Linked DNA regions of Homo sapiens: region 2 is linked to region 1. Evidence: fine-mapped expression QTL. Tissue or cell type: whole blood. Region 1 holds a variant in brackets; the other region holds the start of a gene. All regions are shown on one strand. Distances are between the middles of the regions. Region 1 overlaps EFCAB11 (EF-hand calcium binding domain 11). Region 2 holds the start of TDP1 (tyrosyl-DNA phosphodiesterase 1).

Evidence for each region. PIP is the estimated chance that this variant, and not a neighbour inherited with it, causes the effect.
Region 2: TDP1 starts here. The variant in region 1 is fine-mapped to the expression of TDP1 in whole blood (TOPMed, PIP above 0.99).

Annotation. Positions count from the first base shown.
Region 1 is chr14:89,933,826-89,936,734 of GRCh38, forward strand. The region is part of intron 3 of EFCAB11 (EF-hand calcium binding domain 11); the gene reads right to left. Among named protein-coding and RNA genes, the nearest start is that of EFCAB11, 19 kb to the right of the region's middle. The variant C/T (reference allele first, on the strand shown) is at 1,719.
Region 2 is chr14:89,954,471-89,957,379 of GRCh38, forward strand. It overlaps TDP1 (tyrosyl-DNA phosphodiesterase 1), which reads left to right and starts at 1,457. Exons shown (of 17, transcript NM_018319.4): 1 at 1,457-1,500; 2 at 2,108-2,330. EFCAB11 (EF-hand calcium binding domain 11) reads right to left here and starts at 260. Exons shown (of 6, transcript NM_145231.4): 1 at 116-260. The coding sequence starts at 190. RefSeq lists an enhancer at 1-489 and a silencer at 1,555-1,784.

The DNA of each region.
Region 1 (2,909 bases):
TCACAGGAATCCTCATGTCAAGTAGACTCTGGTGACAGAGAGAGCCCTTCAAGGAGGAGATATTTAAGCCAAGACCTAAACCATGAGACAATACCAACTGCCTAATGTTGGGAAGAAGAGCATTGCTGGCAGTAGGAACAGCCTGTGCCGAGGCTGTTGTGTGGCAAGGTGGGAAAATGAAAAAAGGCTGCTGTGGCTGGAACAAAGTGAGCCAGAGAGAAGTGATACAAGATGAGGTTGGGGAGGGCAGCAGGGGCCAAAACTCACAGGCTCTTGTGGGCCACAGTAAATAATTTGGGTTTTATTTAAGTGGCAATAGGAAGTCAACAGAAGGTTTGAATTGGGAAGTTACATGATCTTTCTGGCTATTATCCTGATAAAAGGACGGAGGTGGGGGAGCAAAAATGTAAAAAGAGAGACCAGTTAGGAGCCTACTGGCAAGAGATGTGGTTGCCAGGTTGCTGGCAGTGGGGATGAGAGGAGTGGAAGGTTTCCAGATATATTTTAGAATCTAAATGACATAGCTTGATGAAGAACTAGATGTGGCAGGTGAGAAAGAAAGAGATGTCAAGAATATCCCGTAGATTCTGGCTTGAAGAGCTACTTAAAGAGAGGAGAAAGTCTGGGGGAAGAGCAAAATTGGGGCGAGATGAAGAGTTGCCATTCAGCTGTGTGAAGTGTTCAGTGCTCTGGAGACAACCAAGAGGAGAAGTTCAGGAGGTGGCCGGCTGTCTTCTAGGCAACAGGGCATATCTCCCTCACCTACCAGAGTGCCTGGCAGGTGCTCAATCATACGTACTGTAGCAAATTAGCATATGTAGCATTTTTTTCCATAGTTGTGGGGAATACATATTGATGCAGCTCCATTCTTATCTAATTACCCTTGTGACAGAGAACATAATGACAAATTGTTAGCTGAGGTTAAAATTGAAGTCTAGCTATGCCATGTGCCCATAAGATCATATCCATAACTTTAGCTTCATGAACACCAAAATCTAGTCAATTAAGTAGCATCTAGAGTAGCCGAAATTCTTGAATAATGTATTCACTGATAATGGCATGTCCTAGGAGACCCTTCAGAAACGTACCCCAGTCCACCTCTCAAGGCTTCCTAGTCAACTTCCTGGTGCTTCCCCAAGCCAAGAGGCCCTTTCGCACTCCACACCTTTGCATGTATAGAACACACTGCCTGGAATAATGCACTTTCTCCTTTTTTCTCCTAGTGAATATTTGTATCTCCTTCCAGATGCAACCCAGGCATCATCTCCTGTTTGAATATGTCTCTGATTTCTCTCAGCTAAGTCCTTTTTCTGTGACCCGACGGCCCTTTGTTCATCATGCAATCATAGAAGTGATTAGGATCTACGGTAATTATTTGGCCACATGTCTGCCTGAGACATGCTGAGGGAAAGCAGTGTATAGTGTTCTCAAAATTTTATCCCATGTTTAGCATGATGCCTAGCAGACAGTAGGCATTCATTACATGTTTGCTGAGTAAGTAACATTCAATGAATAATAACAAACAAGATGTTATTTCTAGTTTTTAGCAAAAAGCATTAAAATGCATGTGGGTTTTTTTTTTTTTTTTTTCCTAGAGACAGGGTCTTGCTCTCTTGCCCAGGCTGGAGTGCAAAGGCTAGTCACAGGCATGGCCACAGCGCACTGCAGCCTCAAAATCCTAGCCTCAAGTTATCCCCCACCTCAGTCTCCCCAGTAGC[C/T]GGAACTAAAGGCATATGCCACCATGCCAGGCTTAAAATGTGTGTTTTAGAGCAGGTATAATGGCTCATGCCTATAATCCTAACACTTTGGGAGGCCAAGGTGGGCAGAGAGGTTGAGGTCAGGAGTTCCAGACCAGCATGGCCAACATGGCAAAATCTGTCTCTACTAAAAATACAAAAATTAGCCAGGTGCGGTAGCTCACGCCTGTAATCCCAGCAATTTGGGAGGCTGAGGCAGGCAGATCACCTGAGGTCAGGAGTTTGAGATCAGCCTGGCCAACAAGGCAAAACCTATCTCCACTAAAAATACAAAAATTAGCCAGGTGTGGCGGCATGCACCTGTAATCCCAGCTAGTCAGGAGGCTGAGGCACAAGAATCACCTGAACCCAGGAGGTGGAGGTTGCGGTGAGCCGAGATCGTGCCACTGCACTCCAGCCTGGGTGACAGAGTAAGACTCTGTCTCAAAAAAAGAAAAAAAAAAACCCATGTTTTAAATGATCTTATAACTCTGTAAATGAATGCCAAAAAGTAGGTCTCTTTCTATTCACATAGCCAGCAAAATAAACTGTCACTTCAGAAACTCCAATTTCTTAAAACATATGATATAGTAAAAACCAAACAAAATTCAGAGAGAACTACATCGATAATATTTGCTCTTATCATTGCATTTGACTTAGAGAAGTGATAAAGGGAAAAAAGCACAATTCCTGGTTCATCGTGTAATTCACAAGGAAAAAAAAGGACCTGAGTGGTGATATCTTTTAAATTACATATTCAGATAACTCATGAGTATTTGGAGCTGTGAAGTATTCAGGTCTTTATTTTACAATATTGTAGGATAAAAACAAACAGTCTTTAGCTTTTACTAGGAGAAAATGTATGTGGATTTAAACTGTATGCCTATTACCACTTAAAAGGAAAACCCATCCAATAACAAAAATTACTCCGTATGTGTAATCAATTTCTTTCACACTATTTTCCCACACAATCATATGCTTTTATTTCTTAAAGTCCATACTCTAGGGGTTAAACTCATCAAGCATATATTGTGTGAACATATCCCCTCCCTTCTATGCCTTTAATTGTCTTAATCTTCTAACGCAACATTTATCCAAATACAAGACCCTTTTCTAAAAAGCACAGAGGAGTTTTTGTTCAGCTCGGCTCTCATGTTGTAGTAATATGATCAC
Region 2 (2,909 bases), 21 kb after region 1:
AGGCAGCCCAGGTCTTATCTGCACACCCGGCAGAGTGAGACCCAGACACGGGAGAGGAAGCGAGAGGCCCAGGCCAAGCTGAAGTCCGAGGCTCAGTCGCCCTCCGGAAACCTACTTCCACCCACTTCCTGTGTTCCGAGGGACTGGCTTCCCACGTCCGCGACCTGGCTCTGGCCTCGGAGAAGAACATCGCGACTACAACAACCGAGCCCCAGCAACCCAACCAGCTACCACCGCTTTCCCAGCCTGGCTGGCAGCCTACCGCGGCCACGCCCACCGCGGCTCAGGAAGCCGAACTTCACCGCGCAACTCCGACGTCTCCTCCCATTGGACAACCTGCCAGCCACTCGCGTTAATCCCGCAGGGCTATTGGCCAGAGTCTTTGTTTAATTACGTTTCCTTGGAGCCGCCCTGGCAGTGAGGCGCCCAGGCCTGCCCCCAGCACTTGGCTCCACCCCCTGACTGTCCCTTAACTCGTTGAGCGCGGCTGGAAATCCAAGCGCTTCTAGGTGCTGGTTCAATGCCTGGTTCATGATTTATTTCATTCTCTCCCTCCATCTTGCAATAGGTTACTTTTAATCATTTAGATCTATGACACTATGCTAAACGTTATAGGAGACAAAAAGACTGTGAACAAACAAGAAGAACCAAACGAAAAGAGCCAAGTCCAGGATTCTCGTTCAGATCAGCAAGTCATTGGGATCGAGCTCCTAGGGCAGCTACTACATCTGTTATGTCCTCAAGATAATCCCAGCACCTAGCACTGTGCCTGGCACAAAGTAGATCTTCAATGAAAGAACGAAACGAGCCGTTATATTTACACAGATGTATTTCACTCAGTCCTCTGGAAGAGATGCCTAGTGTGAAAGAGATTCCAAGAATAAATACCATAAACAGCACCGAGCCCAAATCCCACAGCAAACATCCTTATTAAAGGCAAGGAACGTGGGGCGAGTTCCTTTTCTCAGAAGATTTTACGAGAACGCAACTGTTGCGAAGAAGGAACAGACATTCGAGGTTCTGAGTCCAATGGGAACTCATTTAACTTTTTATTTTGCAGCAGATTTCAAAGTCTGCACCCAGCCCCTCCCAGGACACAGGTCTCCTTGCAGCTGCCTTTAACCTAAGCGTATCCTCTCTCCACTTTAAACCAAACGCCGCTGCATGGAGCCCTGGGAGCCTGAGCCATGAGAATCCTGTAAAGAGGGTGAGTCTTGCTATTAGTTAACTAGAGCGAAGTTAGGGGACGCCTTTCTGGTTCTCCTCTCGTTTTAAGAAGTCTCCAGGAAGTAAGCCAAGAGCTAGGAGAGACCAGGTTTCCCCAGCCCCGTCCTGGGTAAACACCCGGCGGGCTTTAGGACCCAGCGGTGGGCTCTCCGGAAGGGGAAGGGGCCGGGCCTCGAGGCACAAGCCGCTGCCGCCAGGGTTTGAACTGCGCGCATGCGCGGCGGCCGCCGAAGGGGCGGGATCCGAGGCAAGCGTTGGTTCTGTGCGCCTCAGGTACGTGTTGGGCGGCAGTGGGCGCGGACTCGGTGCGGTCTCTCGCGGGCTGCGGTCGGGCCCGGGATCCTGCTCCTGGCCGAGTCGCGGTGCGCGGGCTGCTGGGGTCCGGCAGGGCTGGAGGCGGACCGCGAGGAAGCGGCGCGGCCGGGAAGATGGGGCAGGGTCGCCTCGGCCCCGGGGCCTCGGTTTCCTCCGATCACAGCGCCTCAGGGGGCGCGCACGGGCGCTGCGGAGACCTGTGTCCTGCCGGGGCGCGGCGCTAGGGGCCCCTGCTCGGGTTTTTATTCCCAGACCTAAGCTTACAGGTGCGTGGTCCCAGAAAGTGAGTAGGAAAGCGCCCACCACGTGCCAGGCGCTTAAGCTTTCTGTGCTCGGTTTCCCAGTATAGGAGGACGGTCACGGTACGTAGTATAGAGTTGTCCTGAGGGTGAAGCGAGTTTACACTTGGTGAGGCGCTTCGAATCGTGCCTGGCCGGCCCCAAATGAGCACGCAGTAAGGTTAGCAGCTGCTGCCGTCACTTCCTCACGTTCTGAATCTGCTCCGTCCCCAACGCCTTCAGCAAGAGCCCTCTCACTTCCTTTGTCTTCAACCCATTCTCCGCAGAGTTGGAGCACACAGCTGTATTAAAAAGGCAAATCGAAGGCCGGGCGCGGTGACTCACGCCTGTCATCCTAGCACTTTGGGAGGCCGAGGCGGCTGAATCACTTGAGGTTAGGAGTTTGAGATCAGCCCGGGCAACATGGTGAAACCCCGTCTCTACAAAAATAGAAAAATTAGCCGAGCGTGATGGTGGATGCCTGTAATCCTAGCTCCTCGGGAGGCTAAGGTAGGAGAATTGCTTGAACCTGGGAGGCAGAGAGGTTGGAGTGAGCCGAGATTGCGCCATTGCGCTCCAGCCTGAGCGGCAGAGCGAGACTCTGTCTCAAAAAAATAAATGTAAATCGGACTCCCCTTCTTAAAGCCCTCAGTGGGGTCCCATTGATCATTGCATAAAATCCAATTTCTTTAACAAGTCTTCTCCCCTCACCCGCTTCGGACCACTGCCTGCCTTGCCTAAGTCCTTTCTTATGACCTCTTTCCCACCTCTGCCGGCTGGGTTCCCTCTACTTGGGAATGCTCTTCACCCCATCATTTAGACAGCAGGTTCCTTTTGGCCCTCTGGGTCTCATTTATATGTTACTTTTTAAGTATATTCCAAAGGTCACCCCTATTTTTCTGTCTCATACTTATAAAATGTAATGAATGTCTAACTCATCTTGGCTATTAAAATTTTTATGTGTGGGTCTGTCTCTTCTGCCCTGAAATTAGCTCTGCTAGGGTAGAAACTATATTGTTAACGCCTCATTCCCAGTTTTTGGTACATAATAGCTGCCCAGTAAGTTATTGAATGAATGAACTCCAGGGG